Linked DNA regions of Homo sapiens. The protein of the gene in region 1 purifies or fractionates together with the protein of each later gene. This does not show direct contact. Each region holds a gene or a part of one and is shown in the gene's direction. Other genes may lie near its edges.

Evidence for each region.
Region 2: the proteins of IGF2BP2 (region 1) and NBEAL2 purify together in Homo sapiens (tandem affinity purification; one large-scale study listed by IntAct). This does not show direct contact.
Region 3: the proteins of IGF2BP2 (region 1) and MAPK13 purify together in Homo sapiens (co-immunoprecipitation; one large-scale study listed by IntAct). This does not show direct contact.

What each region holds. Positions count from the first base shown.
Region 1 is NC_000003.12:185,642,609-185,644,973, reverse strand, and holds the end of IGF2BP2 (insulin-like growth factor 2 mRNA-binding protein 2), read left to right. Parts: 3' UTR 1-1,844; downstream 1,845-2,365.
Region 2 is NC_000003.12:46,986,105-46,989,762, forward strand, and holds part of NBEAL2 (neurobeachin-like protein 2), read left to right. Parts: intron 1-1,885; exon of another isoform or gene 1,886-1,943; coding exon of another isoform or gene 1,944-1,973; intron 1,974-2,257; exon of another isoform or gene 2,258-2,341; intron 2,342-2,564; coding exon 2,565-2,653; intron 2,654-2,737; coding exon 2,738-2,866; intron 2,867-2,980; coding exon 2,981-3,062; intron 3,063-3,155; coding exon 3,156-3,277; intron 3,278-3,406; coding exon 3,407-3,489; intron 3,490-3,564; exon of another isoform or gene 3,565-3,658. UniProt on the Homo sapiens protein: Probably involved in thrombopoiesis. Plays a role in the development or secretion of alpha-granules, that contain several growth factors important for platelet biogenesis.
Region 3 is NC_000006.12:36,142,679-36,145,091, forward strand, and holds the end of MAPK13 (mitogen-activated protein kinase 13), read left to right. Parts: 3' UTR 1-1,843; downstream 1,844-2,413. UniProt on the Homo sapiens protein: Serine/threonine kinase which acts as an essential component of the MAP kinase signal transduction pathway.

The sequences.
Region 1 (2,365 bases):
TTTTCTAGACTTTAAAGAATAAAGTCTTTGGGAGGTCTCACGGTGTAGAGAGGAGCTTTGAGGCCACCCGCACAAAATTCACCCAGAGGGAAATCTCGTCGGAAGGACACTCACGGCAGTTCTGGATCACCTGTGTATGTCAACAGAAGGGATACCGTCTCCTTGAAGAGGAAACTCTGTCACTCCTCATGCCTGTCTAGCTCATACACCCATTTCTCTTTGCTTCACAGGTTTTAAACTGGTTTTTTGCATACTGCTATATAATTCTCTGTCTCTCTCTGTTTATCTCTCCCCTCCCTCCCCTCCCCTTCTTCTCCATCTCCATTCTTTTGAATTTCCTCATCCCTCCATCTCAATCCCGTATCTACGCACCCCCCCCCCCCCAGGCAAAGCAGTGCTCTGAGTATCACATCACACAAAAGGAACAAAAGCGAAACACACAAACCAGCCTCAACTTACACTTGGTTACTCAAAAGAACAAGAGTCAATGGTACTTGTCCTAGCGTTTTGGAAGAGGAAAACAGGAACCCACCAAACCAACCAATCAACCAAACAAAGAAAAAATTCCACAATGAAAGAATGTATTTTGTCTTTTTGCATTTTGGTGTATAAGCCATCAATATTCAGCAAAATGATTCCTTTCTTTAAAAAAAAAAAATGTGGAGGAAAGTAGAAATTTACCAAGGTTGTTGGCCCAGGGCGTTAAATTCACAGATTTTTTTAACGAGAAAAACACACAGAAGAAGCTACCTCAGGTGTTTTTACCTCAGCACCTTGCTCTTGTGTTTCCCTTAGAGATTTTGTAAAGCTGATAGTTGGAGCATTTTTTTATTTTTTTAATAAAAATGAGTTGGAAAAAAAATAAGATATCAACTGCCAGCCTGGAGAAGGTGACAGTCCAAGTGTGCAACAGCTGTTCTGAATTGTCTTCCGCTAGCCAAGAACCTATATGGCCTTCTTTTGGACAAACCTTGAAAATGTTTATTTAAAAAAAAAAAAGATGACAAAGAAAAACAGAGAGAGAGAATATTGGAGATGTCCTGAATTTTAATAGGGTACGCGCCATTAGGGCTTTTTGCGCTAAAGGATGAACATGTACTGGTTTATGTGGACAAGCCATTATACCACCAGACTGCAATGCCAGTTTCCTCTACTGCAAACAGTGTTCTGTGACAAAAAAAAAAAAAAAAAAAAGAAAAAAAAAGAAAAAACAGAAATATATCCAGCTAACAAGATCCTGGTGTCTTGGTGTTTTATTTTACTAGGCATTGCCTCATCCCAGGTGTCAGCTGAGTCCTAGCTCTGAGGGACCTGGGCAGACAGGCGGTAGGTGTGACCTGGATCCACACAGCTACTCTGAGAAAGCTGGTTTTGCCCAGGAAAGTCTTTGGGAGAAGCTAAACTAGATCGGTGGTCAAAGTGTAGTCCCCAGACCAGCAGCATCAGCTATCATCTGGGAACTTGTTAGAAATGTAGATTCTTGGGGTCCACCTTGAATCAGAAATCCTGGGGGTGAGGCCCAGCAACCTTTTCAGCAAGGCCTCTGGGTGATTGCTGTGCGCACTGAAGTTTCCGAACCTCGGAGCTAGAGGGATGGATCGACTGCATGTCAAGCTAGAGAAGACCAGTCTATCCTTAAGGAACTGCAAGCCTGGCCAGGCAAAGCTGCTTTTTAAGTGGAGGAAAGGGGGAGGATAATATGCCCGGCAGTTCCGGGAAGAGGCACTTCACGCCTCCACGGGAAGCTCACTAGTAAGTGCAGGCATACCTCAGGAACGTCGCAGGTTCAGTTCCAGACCACCACAGTAAAGCGAACTTTGCAATAAAATGAGTCATACACGTTTTAGTGTCTCACTGCATGTGAGTTATGTTTACACTGTATTAAGTGTACAATAGCATTATGTCTAAAACAGTGGGTTTTTTTTGTTTTTTTTTTTTTGACACAGAGTCTCGCTCTGTCGCCCAGGCTGGAGTGCAGTGGCACGATCTCAGCTCACTGCAACCTCTGCCTCGTGTATTCAAGCAATTCTCCTGCCTCAGTCTCCCGAGTAGTTGGGACTACAGGCATGTGCCACCCCACATGGCCATTTTTTGTATTTTTACTAGAGACGGGGCTTCACTGTGTTAGCCAGGACGGTCTCAATCTCCTGACCCCGTGATCTGCTTGCCTCAGCCTCCCAAAGGGCTGGGATTACAGGCGTGAGCCACTGTGCCCGGCCCAACAGTGTACATATCTTAATTAAAAATAATTTATTGCTAAAGAATGCTAACGATCATCCGAGCCTTAGGCAAGTTGTACTCTTGGCTAGTGAAGAGTTTTGCCTCAATGTTGATGGCTGCTGACTGATGAGGGTGGTGGTTGCTG
Region 2 (3,658 bases), about 140 Mb from region 1:
CTGCCTAATACTGTGCTTTGGAGACCTCGTCATCCCCTTTCAGAGCCCCTGAAGGCTGTCTTGATTGTCCCAGCCCTGAACCCAGCTCAGCCCAATCTGCTGAAAGTTTACAGGACTGGACAGGCCAAGGGTGTGGTTCTAGGGACAGAAAGTACTATCTACATACTCTAGGAGTATGTAGAGATTGAGGGACCCACCCCTGTGCTGGGAAGGCTGATCAAGGTGATGGCCACCAGGAGGGTGGGAGGTTCCTGCTCAAGTACCAAAAGCCCAAGTCACACAAGGCAGTGGGGCATAGGGTGGGAAAAGGCCTGGATAGGAGGATGTGAACCACAGAGGGGGAGAGGTGGAAGCTGGAGAAGCAGGTTCTGGTTGGACCAGCAGCCTGGAATGCTGCTCAGCAGTTGAGCCTTTATGGGGAGGGGTTAGACACGGTCAAATTTGGGCTTTCAGGTGCTCAGTAGAGCTGCAGCTGGCAGGAAGACTCACATTTTGAGTGACTAGCTTGACTGAGGGGCAGAAGAGAGGAAGACAGTATTGGGACATTTTTGAAGGCAGCTAGGGGTCTCTGTGGGGCCACTGAGGCAAGGATCGGGGCCCGCATGGTCCTCATGGGCTGGCTTGCTAGCAATCATGAGTGGTCCTGGCCTAGAACTAAGGTCTGGCTTTTAGCATCCTCAAAGGTACACTGAAGACAAAGTAGTAGATAAGGCATCCCCTGTGGGGCCTCCTGTTTCCCCATCTGCAATGGGAGAGGTTCAGAAGAAATGGTCCAGGGCCCCTGGCCACCTCTGCTGTCTCAGGATCTGGGTATTTTGGGCTCCTTGCTGATTGTTCGGGAGGAGGCTGCCAGCAGGAGAGGGTGGAGAGGTCAATAAATGTAACTGACAGACAAAATGTCATGGTTGTGTGGGTCTGCACCATGGTGGCCCTGGCACCTCTCTGAGTTGTCTGGGCTTCAGATCTGCACTAAACTGTACCAGGGAGTTCCCCAATCACAGGGTGGACGGCTGCTCTGCCTAGGTTTTTTGGGGATCTGGCTCAGGTCTGCTGCAGTCAGGCCTCTTGCCCTGGGGCCATTCAGGCCTTGCCCGTGGTCTGGGCCCATAGGCTGCAAAAATTAGCCATCCATCCAAAGATAGTTCTGGAGGTCCTTGGGTATGAGGCCCATGGCCCCTGGGGAGCAGCCTGAGGCCTGCTGAGTGCTGACTGTGATGTGTCCCTTGCCTCTTCATCCTTTTCCACTCTAGCTCCCCCTGTCCACCTCTCTGACTCTAGGAAAGAAGGCTGCCTTTTGGACTCAGCTGGTTAGGAGCTCCATATGGGGCCAGCCTGGAGGAGCTCCTGTATAAGCCACAACCCACCCCTGGCCCCTGGGAGGGGCTTAGAGATTAGAGCAGATACGGGCTAGGCTAGGATTTATCAGCTGTGTTCCTGAGCGAAGAGAACTGCAGAGTTCAGATGAGGTGGCCAGGACATGGCGGGCGGCGGGGCGGGACAAAGGTATGGCTGAGTCTTCTACATCGACCCCTGTGGCCTGAGGCCTTGCGCGCAGGTCAGGGAGCTGTGGGTGCCTTAAGTGAAGGGTACTGCAGCAGCAGGATCAGAACCCTCACCTGGATAAGAGCTCTTCCAGGCGCCAACCTCATGCTTGTAAAACTAGTCTTGGCCCACAAGCCCCACCCAGGACAGGTGACTCCACCCCTCTGTAACAGGTCCCACCCTCTGTGCAGGCCAGGTCGCTTGCAGCCTCTCTCACTGGGGCCCAGGGTGCCCCGGCCCCCCCACATCCCTGCGGTCTGCCGGGAGGAAGCGGTCCCCCTCCCCCACCGTGACTCTGCGCTTCCTGCCCCAGCCCCGGGGCGGGAGGAGACATTTCCCGTTCACACCAAAGTTTTCCTGGCAGCGCCTAGACCTGGGCTTAGCCACTGCCCCTCTTGCCCATGGAACCAGCTCTGGGGCCTGGGGTCCAGGTAACCAGCAAGGGTGGGTGGAGGTTCCCGGGGCAAGGCAGGGCCGCACATGAGGATGTGCGCATGTCTGGGTCTGCCTGTCTAATGGTACACGTGTGTCCTGGGATCCACAGTTAAAGAAGGCTACTGAAGGTGGTGGCTGCTGGGCTGGGTGAAGATGGCAGATGAGGACCCAGCCCAAGGCTCTTGGTAGGGGGTGGCTGCTGTGTGGGACACCTTCTCCAGCCCTAGCACCAGTGTGGGCCACAGCCACACCCCACTTACGCCCCTCCCCTGGCTGTGTCAGACCTGCCTAGGACTGCAGGCATTAGGGAGGTGGGAGCAGAAACTGGGAGGCTGAGAGAAGCAGTGGGGTGCCTGGAAAAGTGGTCAGTATGTACCTAACTCTCTGATGCTGACCTTCCAATGTCCTGCCCTCCCTCCCCCGTCCCCCACTCCCCTTCTCCACACCCTCCACTCTGCCTTTAACCCCTTGTCCATGCCCTCTGTCCACCTCCATTCATTCTTCGCCTCTGTCTACATCCCCTTGTCCCTGCCCTGTTTACTGCATCCCTCCTGCCCCCCACCACTGTTCCCCTGTTCTGCCTACAGAAGGACCTGGGTTACCTGCAGCAGTGGCTGAAGGCCTTTGTAGGTGCCTTCAAGAAGAGCATCTCACTGTCCTCTCTGGAGCCACGAAGGTGAGGCTGGATCTGCACTGAGGGCAGGGACAGAGCAGGGAGATTGAGGGGTCCTCAGCACCCGTGTCTCCCCTTTCCTTGCAGGCCAGAGGAGGCAGGTGCAGAGGTCCCGCTGCTACCACTGGATGAGCTGCATGTGCTGGCCGAACAGCTGCACCAGGCTGACCTGGAGCAAGCCCTCCTGCTGCTCAAGCTCTTCATCATTCTCTGCAGGTGTCTCTGTTGTCCACTCTACAAGCAGGGGCCTAGAACTGTGGGCCAGAGGGAGAGGGGACAAGGAGGGGCATGGTGTATTATTGTGACCTCTCTCATCATTGACTCCCCCAGGAACCTGGAGAACATAGAGGCAGGCCGGGGCCAAGTGCTAGTGCCCCGAGTGCTGGCACTGTTGACCAAGTTGGTGGCGGAGGTGAAGTGGCCTCTACCTTGGGGGGCAGAGGGTGTATGCAGGGAGGCAGGCGGTAGCCATGGCGGGGCTAACCCTCTCTCCCCACACCTACAGCTGAAAGGATGCCCACCACCCCAGGGCCGAGGCACGCAGTTGGAGAATGTGGCCCTACATGCTCTGCTTCTCTGCGAGGGCCTCTTTGACCCTTACCAAACCTGGCGGCGCCAGCGCAGTGGGTGAGACCCAGCCCACAGGAAGGGAACCCAGAGGAGGGTGGGGAGAGGATGGCCGCGCTGGGCCCAAGGAGGGGTGACGGCCAGGAGTGGTGAGAGCCGGGCTGATGTACTTGGCCTCACTGCCCCCAGGGAAGTCATCAGCTCCAAGGAGAAGAGCAAATACAAGTTCCCTCCTGCTGCTTTGCCCCAGGAATTCAGCGCCTTCTTCCAAGGTCAGGCCCCGCCCCTGCCCCCACTTGGCTCCACCCCCAAACCTAGGCCCCTTCCTGTCGTTCCTTGATCCTGCCATACACAGGAACCACTTGGTGGTGGCTGCATGCAGGACTGGGAGAACCAAAGACCAAGCAAGAGTTTAGGGACAGAGACAAGAGAAGACATCTT
Region 3 (2,413 bases), on another chromosome or scaffold:
GGCTGTACCTTTGAGCTGCTCTCCTGAAAATCTCTATTATTTCAGACTCCCAGACCCCACCCCCCGCTTCATCCTCTGGTGTCCTCCTAGGCCATCCCCACTCCGGAATTAAACCTCAGCCCCTCCCACAGAGTTTTCTCAAATCTGTGAAGTTTCTTCAAAAGGCGGTGGAGGTGCTCAGCAGTGCAAGGTGGGGGGTGGAGGGGGTGGGGAGTAGAGGGAGTGGGGGTTCCACGGGTTTGGGTCTTGCCCAGTGGGCACATGGCCTGTGTAATAGGAAACAAGTCCATTCTCCTGCTGTGGGGGGCAGAGGAGCTGGCGGGGCGAGGGAGGGGGAGATGTGGGCTCAGGTATTCTTGGTGGATGCGCTTCGTTCTGTGGCTGATGGGGTGGCTTAAAAGATCTTAACAGAGAGAGATCAGGAAGCCAGACTGCAAGGTGGGGGACATTTCCTAAGAGCAAGTGTACCCTCCATTCCCTCTTTTGAGGAACAAAGAGTATCTTTGCTGGGGCCTGAGTCATCCATGAAAACAGACAGCAGCGGTGTCCCAGGGCAGGGCTTGCCTGGCGTGGATTGGGGTGGTGCTGCCCCCAGTGAGGGGCAGCACAAGGGGAGACAGAAATGGAGGAATAGCCCCCGTAAGGGCAAGCCCAGTGTGCACCAGTGCCCAGAGCTGCCTGATGGAGGAACAGCTCCGTAAGGGTGAACCCAGTGTGCACGGGTGCCCGGAGCTGCCTGCGTGAGGCTGGGGGCTAGTTTGGATGAGGGCATGGCTCAACTTTCACTTGGCACATTGAAATAGCTTTTGCTGTCTGCTAGGGTGTGGAAAACTGTTTTTCCATGGCCCCAAGCAATGCTATAGCTACAGCTGAGGAGGGAGGAATCTCTCCCTGCCTCTCCTCCCAACTCTTGGCTTTTGCTTCCTTAAATTTGAACAATTCCCTAAGATCTAATGCTGGGAGGCTCCCCTTCCTTCATTACACAGTGAACTCATGTGCTCTATCTGCATTCCCCCTAAATCCTCCTGAGCTTTTAGGTAAGAGGCCGATGATTTCACAATCGGCAGCAGAGGCCTAAGGCCATTCCATCAAACTGAAGATGGCAGCAAGTTGTCCTCACTTCTTCATTGAGCACCCATGGGTGTGTACTGGAGCAAGGGTGGTGCCAGGGATTCTCCTGCTCTGGTTCCTCCTGCGGGGTCCCTGCTCAGCTGGGCAGCTGCCCTCACTCTGGGCGGGTGGCATGTGAGTGTCAACAGGGCCCCTCTCAGTCAGGGGCTCTTGGCCATTTTTTGTGCCATGGATCGCTTCTCAAAATCATATTTTCTTTTCTTTTCTTTTGAGATGGGGTCTCACTCCATTACCCAGGCTGGAGTGCAGTGGTGCAATCACAGCTCACTGTAGCCTCGACCTCCCTGGGTTCAGGTGATCCTCCCACCTCAGCCTCCCAAGTAGCTGGGACTATAGGCATGCACCACCATGCCTGGCTAATTTCAGAATAATATTTTCATACACATAAAATATGTAGGATTACAAAGTAAGCTAGTTATATTTATATACAGTTGTCAAAATATTTTTAAAATGTATAACGTGATACTATGTGTATAGGTTTCTTTATTAACATATTGAATAAAAAGATCGAGGGTAGGCCTATTAAACAATGGTAAACTGAAGAGAGATGAGTGTAAACAATATTTTAAGATAGATACCTGTGGCAAACTGTAAAGGGATATGAAAAACTCTGTAATTTCTATTGGCACTGCTGATACAACTGCACTTTGCTACCTTTGTTCATAACCAAGGAAATAGAAATGACTGAAAATAAAGTTGTATTCTATTCCAATCCAAGTGCACAGACCCCTGAATTCTATAGTTTGTGGACCCCAGTTATGAGCTATTGGAATGAGGCTGTTCTAGCTACTGAAATGAGGCTTTAGGTATCCTCTGTCAATTCCTAACAAACCCCCCAGCCCCACCCTCTATGATCATGGAGCCAGGCTGGAAACTTCCAGCACTGCACCTGGACGCCCACACACTCATCAGGGCCCGCTCCTCTGGACCGCCCAACCTCACCATCTGGGTAGAAATGGACCTGACTGGGGCATTTTGCTAGGGCAGCACTCCCCAACGTTTTTAGCTCCAGGGACTGGTTTTGTGGAAGACAACTTTTCCATGGATGGAAAGGTTTTGGGTGGGGAATGGTTTTGGGTGAAACTGTTCCACTTCAGATCATCAGGCATTAGATTCTCATAAGGAACGTGCAACCTGGATCCCTTGCATGTGCAGTTCACAATAGGGTTCGTGCTCCTATGAGAATCTTGTGCCGCCACTGATCTGGCAGGAGGCAGAGCTCAGGCTGTAATACTCACCTGCGGCTCACCTCCAGCTATGCAGCTCGTTCCTAACAGGCCAC